Linked DNA regions of Homo sapiens: region 2 is linked to region 1. The links come from fine-mapping of genetic effects on gene expression. A gene starts in region 1. The other region holds a variant in brackets. All regions are shown on one strand. Distances are between the middles of the regions.

Region 1 (5,361 bases):
CCCTACACGGGCTCCCCTGGCCTCCGGCCCACTGCACCTGGGCTGCCACTAGGCCCTCCCCAGACCAGGAGGGTGCGGGCAGGGTCCCCCTCTCCCGGGCTGGGGCGACCAGGCTCCACGTTACAGACCACATCTTCCCGCCCACCCTGCCTGGCCCCCCAACCTGGCGGTAGGCCAGGAAACTCAAGTTACGCCCTTAGGGCCTGCCCCCAGGACAGCCTCAGGGAGCCCCTCGAACCCCAGTTAAATCACAGCCTAACCCCAAAACCCACTGGGCCAGGCCATTCTCATCTCCCCACTCCAGTCCATGCCCCACAGGGGTGAGGCACTTTCCCAGGGCAGTCACTCTACGGCACCTACTGCAGCCCCACAGCCCCCATAACTGGCTCCTGTAACAGGCTCCCATGAGAGCCGGTTACCAGAGAGAAGGCCCAGAGGTGAGTGGGTTCCAGCACCCCCACACGACTGGAAGAGGGCAGTACAGGGCCGTCTGCGTGGAGGAGGAGGTCCATTAGGCTTCTGACGGAGGGGCCAGGGAGAAGGTGGGTGCTTCAGCCAGGGTCCAGCCCCCAGCAGGGAGGCCATGCCCACACCTCCCCACAGCCCGGGTCCTCAATGCAGGATCCTAGGGTGCTCAAGTTATTCAACCCCTTTTCCCAGGTCAGCAACAGAAGATGGGAGAGCAGAGGATGGCCCCAGTTCCTCTGCCCAGGGCTGGCGGCCACTCTCCTGGCTGGCCCTGAGCCTCCCACTCCAAGGCTCCTGAGCCTCCTGGTGAGGGCTCCAGGGATACAGAGGCTCCCCGTGCCTCCACACACATGCTGACTTGCCAGCAGATCCCAAGAGACCCAGCGCGCGCGTGCACACCCACACATACACAATCAAGCACACATGTGCAAACATGTTCATGCACAAACATGCCTGCACACACTGGTACCACACATACATGTGTGTTCAAGGAGACACTGCACAGACACGCATCAACATGTGTACCTAGTGATGGAACACGCGTGTACAAGGTGATGTGTCTATTGCTGACATGGCTAACACAGTACGTGAACCCACACAGACAGGTGGTGTGTGCACACGCTTGCGTGCACTCATCGGCAGGCTACATGCAGAAGCAAGCACAGCCCCGTGGCACAGCTCATCCACACGTCCTGTGCAAGGCCTGGTGTCCGGAGGGAGGCACGCAGAGGGGCAAAGTTCACAAGAGCGCACCCCGCACGAGCTCGTGCAGAGGAGGGGGCCTCACGCAGGTGCGCACTTGGGGATGCAGAGAGGTTTCTTTGCCTCCATTGTCGTTTGCCAAATGTCCACCAAGCAAAGCCGATGCACACTTGTGCACACGTCTGTGAACATGTAGTTCACGCAGGTGTACACGCCTGCACGCCACGAATGATGGAAAACATGCAGACTCGGTGTGCACACAACCCCTACCCCCTACCTGACCTTCCCCGCCGCTCTTCTCGGCCGCCACCCCTCCAAGCCCCTGGGTCATTCAAACCACTTCACGTTTCCAAGCACCCTACCCCAGGCCTTAAACGCGGCTCCAGCTGCCTGTTCCCCACGCGCTGCTCTGGACACAGGATCAAGTCAGAGACCAGGGGCCGACGCCCCCACGGACCCAGACGACCCTGGCCAGAGCTGGACTGCAGGGCCCGGGAGGGGCTCAGCCCAGTGGAGGTGCAGACACAGAGCGGGGGCGGACGGTCCCGAGGTGCCCACGGCTGCCCACGCGCACGCCCTCCACCCGGGGCGGCCGCACAGGGCAGGAGCGTCTTTTGTTCCAACCCCCGGGGCATGGCGGGGCGGGGCCGCCGCTTTGTCCGAGGCCGGTCCTCCAGCCCCTCCCCGGCGGCCGCGGCCCGGCCCGGCGCTGACCTCCCCACCCCGCCGCCGGGCACAAAGGCGACAGCGACGCCCCCGGCCTGCGCCCACCCCGGCGGCCCCGGGCGGCGCACCTGAAGCGCGGGGAGTCCTTGACGCACTCCTCGAACTCCACGGTCATGGCTGCGGCGGCCGCGGCGCTCACTGGCACGAGGACCGCGGCGCCGAGCGGCAGCCGCGCCGGCCCGGACCGCTCGTCCCGCCCGCGCCGCCTCGGCGCCCGCCCGCCCCGGAATGAGGCCGCCGCGCCGCGCCCCGCCCCGCCTGTCACCGCCGGGGAGCGTCGCCAAAGTCAGCCGCCCGCGCGCACCGCCCGCTGTCACTGCCGGGGAGCGTCGCCAAGGTCCGCCGCCCGCGCGCGCCGCCCGCTGTCACCGCCGGGGAGCGTCGCCAAACGCCTCTCGCAGCGTCCAGGGACCACCCCGGTCCGGAAGTGAGGCGGGGCCTGCCACGGCCGTCTCCGGGGACAGTCGGTGGAAATGTGGGGCGCGGGGAGGGCGCGGGGAGGGCGCGGGCCCGCCCGCTCCAACCATCCCGGCCGTTGCGCAACTCAGGGCGTTTGCAAAAACCACGTCTGGGAGGACTTGGCCGCAACGCGGCGAACGGGCGCGCTCGGGGAGTGTGGGCGGCGGCGAATGAATGAGCGAGTGAACGAATGCACGCCCGCGAGAGCGCGGGGTGACCGCGTGGTTGGTGCGCGCCTCCCGGGGCGCCGCGATAGAGGTAGAGCGCCTGCGCTCGGCGGCGGGCCGGCACTTTGCAGCCGCTCCCTAAGCCCGGCCCCGCCTCCGCTCCCCGACTCTGGCCGCCGTGGCGCGGTGCCACCGCGCAGGCGCAAGAGCGGCCGGGGCCGGGGGGGAGGGGGGGGGGGCGTGACCAGGCCGCGTCCGCGCGCGCGCAGGATTCCTGCGCTGGAGGCCGCCTCTGACGCCACCGGCTGGGCTCCGCCATGAGTTCGGCGCCGGCCTCAGGCTCCGTGCGCGCGCGCTATCTTGTGTACTTCCAGTACGTGGGCACCGACTTTAAGTAGGTTTCCCAGGCGCAGCGGCGGGCGCCACGTGGGCCCGGGCGGAGGCGGGAAGGAGGGCGCGGGCGGGCAGGCGGATGTCTCTGGACGCGGGTTCCAAACGTTCGGGGAAGGAAGCGGCCCTGGCCTCAGACGGCGGCGGAGACCCCAGGGCAGGGCGCCCCCGGTAACCTCCGCCCGCTTCTGCCCGCAGCGGGGTCGCGGCCGTCAGGGGCACTCAGCGCGCCGTCGGGGTCCAGAACTACCTGGAGGTGCGCTCAGCCGGTCACGGGACGCCCGGTGAGGGGTAAGGGGGAGGCTCCCGCCCGCGCGTCCCCGGGGTCCGGCCTCGCTCACCCGCCCGCCCCGCGGCTCGGTCCTGCAGGAGGCCGCCGAGCGGCTGAATTCCGTGGAGCCGGTCAGGTTCACCATCTCCAGCCGCACGGACGCCGGGGTCCACGCCCTGAGCAACGCGGCGCACCTGGACGTCCAGCGCCGCTCAGGCCGGCCGCCCTTCCCGCCCGAGGTCCTGGCCGAGGCCCTCAACACACACCTGCGGCACCCGGCCATCAGGTGAGCCCGCGACCTAAGCAGCCCTGGGGCTGTGCCTTCCCGACTCCATCTGTCGCGGGCGGAGGCTGGAGATCTGGACAGACTTCCTTGTCTGGTCGGAGCTCGAGGGGGAAGGAGAGCCAATGTGACACCGCGGGCGGGCGGGGTCGTTCCTCCGGTGAGCTTTACCTGCCGCCATAGGGTCCTGCGGGCCTTCCGAGTGCCCAGCGACTTCCACGCTCGTCACGCAGCCACGTCCCGGACCTACCTGTACCGCCTGGCCACTGGCTGTCACCGGCGTGATGAGCTGCCGGTGTTTGAACGCAACCTATGCTGGACTCTCCCGGCAGAGTGAGTGTGGCCCTGACAGCGGGGAGGGGGCGGGCAGGCCGGCCCCACCCTCCTGACGGTCACCCTGGTCCCTGAAGCTGCCTGGATATGGTCGCCATGCAGGAAGCCGCCCAGCACCTCCTCGGCACACACGACTTCAGCGCCTTCCAGTCCGCTGGCAGCCCGGTGCCGAGCCCCGTGCGAACGCTGCGCCGGGTCTCCGTTTCCCCAGGCCAAGCCAGCCCCTTGGTCACCCCCGAGGAGAGCAGGTGAGGAAGGGCCCCTGGGCTGTGGCCCTGCCCTCAAGTCACGTGCTGATTTTAGCTCCAGCACCTCCCCCAGTTTTAAGGCAAGGTGAGGCGGGAGGCAGGCAGCCGGGAGTCCTCAGGACCTGGACAGCTGGAGGGGATTCGCCCGGACGCCCCCCAGCCTCCAGCTGTGCCCTCCCCCCAGGCTGGGGAGCGGAGAACAGGGAAGGCTGCTTGTCTCTGAAAAACCCCTGCCATGCCTGATGGAAGAATGTTGGCAGCTACTGGAAAGGTCTCACTGGTGCCAGTGGTTCTGGTGGGGTGGTTTCTGCTGCCCCCAGCACTGTCCCGAGGGCCACCCACCAGGTGGCAGCTTCTGACCAGAACCTCCCCTATTGGGGTGAGCCCTGAAGGGGGGAAGAACTTCTGCCAGCCCCAGACTTCTGTGGCAGAGCAGCAGGTACAGGACTGGGGGTCTCTGGCACCCGCACCAGCCACGTTCCCAGACCCTGCACCAGGACCCTAGGTGAGGGCCCAGGGCAAGCCCCTCTGGGATGGCCAGGCTACCTGCCCAGCCTCCAGGGTCCTGCTGCCTCCTTGCCCAAGCATTGTTTCTCTGGTTTTAAGCCCCTCCAATGGGCCTCACTGGGGGCAGGAGATCAGCCAGGGCCCCTGGTGGCCAAGCTAGTGGGAACCAGGCTCGTCTTTAGGCCCACCCTGTCACTCTCCCGTCCAAGGCCACATAGTAGGCTGAGGATGGCAAACACTGCCCCACAGACACCTACAGGTACGTATTTTTCCAGGAAGCTGCGGTTCTGGAACCTGGAGTTTGAGAGCCAGTCTTTCCTGTATAGACAGGTAGGCTCTGTTCTGGGGCCGTCCCCAGGGGGTGGGGCTGAGGGTGGGCAGGCCCCTGTGCAGTCTTGGCTCTGGGTCGTGGGCGGCTCTGGGTCACAGGTACGGAGGATGACGGCTGTGCTGGTGGGTCACGGGCGGCTCTGGGTCACAGGTACGGAGGATGACGGCTGTGCTGGTGGGTCACGGGCGGCTCTGGGTCACAGGTGGCTCTGGGTCACAGGTACGGAGGATGACGGCTGTGCTGGTGGCCGTGGGGCTGGGGGCTTTGGCACCTGCCCAGGTGAAGACGATTCTGGAGAGCCAAGATCCCCTGGGCAAGCACCAGACACGTGTAGCCCCAGCCCACGGCTTATTCCTCAAGTCAGTGCTGTACGGGAACCTCGGTAAGAAAAACAGGCACGAGAAGCTCCTGTCATGTGCCCAGTGACTACTGTGGCCGAGGCATGGGGTGGGGGGCCAGGGGCCACTGACGGCAGC
Region 2 (5,361 bases), 230 kb after region 1:
TGTCCCTCGGCCTCCCCTCCCCGGGCTCTTGGGGGAACTGCCCAGGCTCAGGCCACAACAGCCTCTGGCCTCTTGCTGCTGGGGCAACACAAGCTCCCCAAGGAGCTCGCCCCAGCAGCTCACCCTGTCCCAGGAAGGTCTCCGGGCCTTGACTCTGCCGATCGGACTGGCATCCCAGACAGTCAACTCTGGGATCCCTAGTCCAACAGGAGGGCCTGGGAGTGGAGCCCGCGGGCCCCACGCGCCTTGCGGTCCACACTCCTGGCTGCCTCCCACATCTCCGCCGAGCTCCAGCTGCCTGTGTCTCCACGTGGGATCCGCAGACACCTTAAACTTGTGCCTAAAAATAGCTCCTCTCTCCCCAGACCTGCTTCTCCCCCACCTTCCCCTCGGTGACGTAGCAGCGCCTCAGCCTGGTTTTCAGCCGAGACCCAGAGACCACCCCACCCTCCACACCCCAACCAGAAGTACTTCCCACACTGAAAGCCCAGCCTGTCCGTCCAACCCAGGGTCTTGCAGCCCTCTCCAGGCCATCCCTGTGCCCAGCGGGGACCACACAGGTGCCTTCCCTCAGTGAGATCTGGGGGGTCCTGGGGCCCGAGCCCAGGAACAGGGAGGAGGTGTCCCCTGCCCCACGCTCCCCTTGAAGCCCTCCTGCTCTTCTGGGGTTCCCGGAGGTCAGTCCCCTCAGCATATCCGGAAAGTGGCCGCTTTCAGTGGCAGGGCTCTCGGTGAGGAGTGACCATGACCGTGGCTGATTCCTGGTGGCCACCGATCACCTGGTGACGAGCCTGTCCACAGCCATCGTCCATCGTCACCAATGGGCAGCTGCTGACCACTGCCCAGAATGTGCAGCTGCCAGAGGCCCTCAGGGGAGGAAGCTGTTCCTGACCCCTTAGAGAGTCCTCACCCACCCCAGGGGCTCAGTAACTTTGGGGGTCAGAGGTCACAGCCTGTGTCCCCCACCATGGCTGGCCTGGGTACCTGTAGCTCCTCTCCCTGCACCTGGCCCTCCTTCCTGGAGGGCTCAGGTCTCCCAAGTGAAAGCAGGAGATAGGCCTGGGCAGAGATATGCTATCTGCACACGTATGTCTGTGACATGTACATACGTGTGTCCTGCCTGCACCACACACACCAGGTGTGTCCACCTGAGGCCCAGTGTACATCACGTATACACACCAGCCACATGCACGGGACATGGCGTGATACTGTGGACATGGGCCCCGGGAGCGCCACACCCCCGCCCTGTGCACGGTGTGTCACGCGAGTGCATGTTCGCTTGGCTTTGCAAAACGCAGCCACCCTCTCCACGGGGCGCCACGTCACGTGCATGGACGGATGTCTAGTTTGGACGCTGCCTGCCAACAGACTTTGGAGCATTGATTTCCATACACGTTCTCCACGTCAACGTCTACGTATAGGCACGTATGAGGCCTACACATGTACACACACTCGTTCTGAACACCAGCGTGTACACACAGGGAGCCTCTCATGGCAGTGCACGGGCATGGTGGATACGCAGATACCGCATGTGCAAGACTGCTGTCTGCACACACACTGGCTGCAGCTACACGGAGACATCTTGACATGTCCCTGAGCACACGGCACTGTATATTGTGACATACATGTACTTTGCATACACATATATGTTGTCAATATACAAGGGCACTCTGTACGCTGAACGTACATATCCTGTATGTAGAGATGTGAACAGAGCATAGATACATGGACACACACGCAGCAATACCGTCTACAGCAGGCTGTGGCTCTGCTTCCCACACACGGCTGCCTTCAGCGTGCACCCACCCGAGTCCACGCGTGCTCTGGACACGGCATGAGCCGCCCTACATGCCCTGTGCAAATACTCTAAGGCGCCTCTGCCTGCCCCGCGGAGCCCTCAGTGTGCTGCCACAGGCGGATGCACACGGCCCCAGCCCACGTGCGTGGAGGCCGCACCTTTCTGATGCTCTGGAGCTCGGGTCTGGGCCCAGCCTCCGGGAGGCAGTGGAGCCGACCTCAGGCCTTTGCTCAGCAGTCGGACCTGCCAGCCAGGGACACGGGGCTCTCTGGTAGCATGTGGCCACCCCACAAGCTCTTACCCCCTACCCTGTGCCCAGCACACGTGAGGGTCACAGACACCCCGATCTCTGCCTTCTCTAACACCCGTGTTCTTCATCGACACGCCTGCTGCACCCATAGGCATGTCACACGCTTAGCAACACATGCAGCTGTCCTGAACACACATGCCCCACACCCACACGTATGCACAGAGACCCCCGGAGCAGGAGGCAGCAGAGATGACGAACACGGGTTCTGGGCTGGTGCCCCCTTTGTCCTTCACTAGCTGTGTGACCTTGGAAAAGCCTGTCCTCTAAATCCTCCGTCCA[C/A]TTCCTCATCTGTTCAGCAGGGTTAACAGCGGCCACTGCGTGAGGGTGTCCTGAGGGGTGGAAGTGCATGCGTGCGTGCGCGGGGGCTGTGTGTACGCACATGTATATGCACAGACGCCACACACATGCGCGTCTCATGAGAAGATGTTTATTTCGTACATGGACGTACAAACATGCATGGCCAAGAGGATCCCATCGCTACACGTGCACAGAGGGGGTCACACGGTGGGTGCGGGGGGTCTGGGCGCTCCCCTCAATCTGAATGACCTTGAGGAAGCTCCACCTCCCCGCTGCCCCCCCAGCCCATCCCTCAGCTCCTCTCCAGCCCGGGGGTGGTGCCCAGTGCCCCTCAAGGCAGGCCCTTCCCGCCTTGACCTGCATTCCCCTGCCCAGGGACTCAGTGCAGGGCCCAGCCCTGTGCCAGCAGGCGCTTCCTGCCCCAGCCCTGATGAGGCTGGCTTGGGTCTCCACTGTGGACATCACACTGGGCTGCGGCTTTCCGGCCTCCAGGCTGGACCAGGAGGCCCCGTGACCCATTCCGCCATCACCCTGGAGGCCTCTAGGAACGGCGTCCTAAAGCCATGCGCCCCCAGGAGACCCCCGCCCACCTTGAGACAGCTCCTCCCCCTGCGCACCTGGCAGCCCTCAAGGGTGGAAGGCGGCTCGCGGCCTGCGTGGGGCTGGTTCCCCCGCGCCCCGAGTGGGCCCCGCCACACATGTGCGCTCACGCGTGTCGAGCCGGCGCCGGTTGTGGACTCACCGGCCACAGTTGCAGTGGCAGACGCGGTCCTCGCCCCGCAGGTGCGGGAGGATGTAGTTGTGGAATCGGTCCAGCAGCGCGTTCATGTCCATCAAGCACGCGATGGCCTGGAAGAGCTCATGACCGGTCAGCGCCAAGGAGCGGGCGGGACGAAGCGGGGCTGGGGGTGGGGAGCGCAGGCCGGGGTCGGGGCAGCGCAAGCGGGGAGCGAGAGCGCAGGCCGGGGTGAGGGGAGCGTAGGCCTTGGTAGGGGGAGCGCAGCGGGTATGGGGATCGCAGGCTGGGGAGGGGAGCGCAGGCCGGGGTGGGGGGAGCGCAGGCCCGGGAGGGGACCGCGGGCCGGGGAGGGGGAAGCGCAGGCCGGGGTGGGGGGAGCGTAGGCCGGAGAGAGGAGCGTAGGGAGTGTGGGGATCGCAGGTTGGGGAGGGGAGCGGAGGCCGGGGTGGGGGAGCGCAGGCCGGGGAGGGGAGCGCAGGCCGGGGAGGGGAGCGCAGGCCGGGGAGGGGAGCGCAGGCCGCACGGGCGGTAAACAAGGCGCGGGAGGTGGGCCAGGCGGCGCGCGCGGGCGGGGAGCAGGGGGCGCGCGCGGGAAGCCCCTCCGCTCACCATCACGACCGACGCCCCCAGAATCATGAAGATCATGGTGTTCGCGCTCATGGACATCGGGCGGGGCCGGGCCGGGCCGGAGCGCCGCCCCCCGGCCCCGGCGCCCCCCCGGCCCCGGCCCGATGCTGAGCCCCCGCCGCCTCCGCAGAGGTCAGCGCTTCCCTGGATCGTCCGCCGCCGCTCGCTGCAACCCCGGCACCGGCCGGGGGGAGGAGGCGCGGGGGGGGGGGCGCCGGGGAGGGACGCGGGGCCTTTCTGGGGTCTCTCGGCCCGGCCCGCCGCGCTCCGCTCCGCCCTCGGGTCCTCCCTGCGATGCGCTCGGCTCGGCTCGACTCGGCTCCGCTCGGCTCCGGCCCCCTCCCTGCCTCCTCCTCCCTCCTCCCCCCTCCCTCCCCGCCGCCTTCCTCCGCCTCTCGGGAGGGACCGCGCAGACCGCAGGCCGCCCCGTGCCAGCGCCGGGAGGAGACCGCCATCCCCCGGACGCCGGCCGGGACCCCTCCCCGGGAGCCTCGGCTTCGCGTCCCGCCCCAGTCTGGTCAGACCCAGCCCCGGTGGCCTGTCCGGTGACCCTGGACGCCAGTCCTCCGGTCCTGGAGGGGCGCCGAGGCCCTTCCCGCCCCACTGCTCCGCCCTACGTCCTGGACTCCCAGGTCGCCGGGTGCGGGACTGCCCCAGTCCGCTCGGCACGCACGTGCCTCCAGGGTGGGGTCCGCAAGGTCGCGACAGCCCCACGGCCGTGGGGGCCACAGGTCAGGGACGGGATGACCCCTGGAATCCTCAACGGAGGGATGTGGCACAGGAGCCGAGGGCAGGGCCGCCCCGCACAGGCTTCCCTTAGGGCGGGGACGAGGGGGTCAGCCCAGGCCCATGGGTCGGGACGCCGGCCATTCAGAGGCCCAGTGGCCACCACTCCGCTGTGGCTGTCCCTGGCTCGGGGTCCTGAGGCCAAACTCTCATCCACGACCGGTGACCATGTCTCAGGCCCGGGAGCCGACCCCCGGCCTCAGCAGGAAGTCAGCGGGAAGCTATGCCTGGGACCCAGCCTGGGTCGTGGCGCCATCCAGGCTCACTGCAGCCTCCACTCCTGGGCTCAGGCGATCCTCCCGGCTCAGCCTCCCCCGTAGCTGGCCTTGGGGGATCCCCGCCCGGGGGGGTTCCACATGGAGAGGGGACGCCGCTCCACCACAGGCAGCAGTTGTGGCAGGAGCAGGCGGCTTCCGCTTCAGGCAGCACAGGCACGGGTAGGCCCAGACCCTGTCAGCACCACCAGGTCTGAGCTACTCCTCCCAAGCAGTGGTCGGAGGTCACTGAGGGCGGCAGGGCTAGGCCTCTGCCACCTCCTCAGGGGCGAGGGTCGGGCCAGGAATTCAGGACCAGGCACAATGACAGCAGCATCTGTTTATTGACAATTCCAGGTCATTCCTAACACGCCGCAGCAGGGCTCTGTACAGTCCGGCCCGGTGGGGAGGAGGGAGGGAAGGCAGGCACACGAAGACACAGGTATGTCGGGAAGTGCACACAAACCGTTGTCTTTCCTTTTTGGTTAAAGAAGAAAAACTTTGTAATCAATATCCTGCTCATAAGTAAAAGTGGAAAAGAAGAAACTTG

The links. PIP is the estimated chance that this variant, and not a neighbour inherited with it, causes the effect. A credible set is the group of variants that fine-mapping cannot tell apart.
Region 2: its variant is the best candidate, but not a certain one, in a credible set for the expression of ACAP3 in nasal epithelium (TOPMed, PIP 0.57).

The regions. Positions count from the first base shown.
Region 1 is chr1:1,305,805-1,311,165 of GRCh38, forward strand. ACAP3 (ArfGAP with coiled-coil, ankyrin repeat and PH domains 3) reads right to left here and starts at 2,126. Exons shown (of 24, transcript NM_030649.3): 1 at 1,965-2,126. The coding sequence starts at 2,011. PUSL1 (pseudouridine synthase like 1) reads left to right here and starts at 2,793. Exons shown (of 8, transcript NM_153339.3): 1 at 2,793-2,916; 2 at 3,111-3,168; 3 at 3,282-3,469; 4 at 3,650-3,799; 5 at 3,877-4,047; 6 at 4,830-4,884; 7 at 5,105-5,267. The coding sequence starts at 2,840. RefSeq lists silencers at 1-160, 1,675-1,894, 1,945-2,114, 2,155-2,834, 3,055-3,124 and 2 more.
Region 2 is chr1:1,536,537-1,541,897 of GRCh38, forward strand. It overlaps TMEM240 (transmembrane protein 240), which reads right to left and starts at 4,088. Exons shown (of 4, transcript NM_001114748.2): 1 at 3,754-4,088; 2 at 3,148-3,254. The coding sequence starts at 3,810. It overlaps SSU72 (SSU72 homolog, RNA polymerase II CTD phosphatase), which reads right to left. Exons shown (of 5, transcript NM_014188.3): 5 at 5,137-5,361. RefSeq lists a silencer at 2,673-2,967. The variant C/A (reference allele first, on the strand shown) is at 2,388.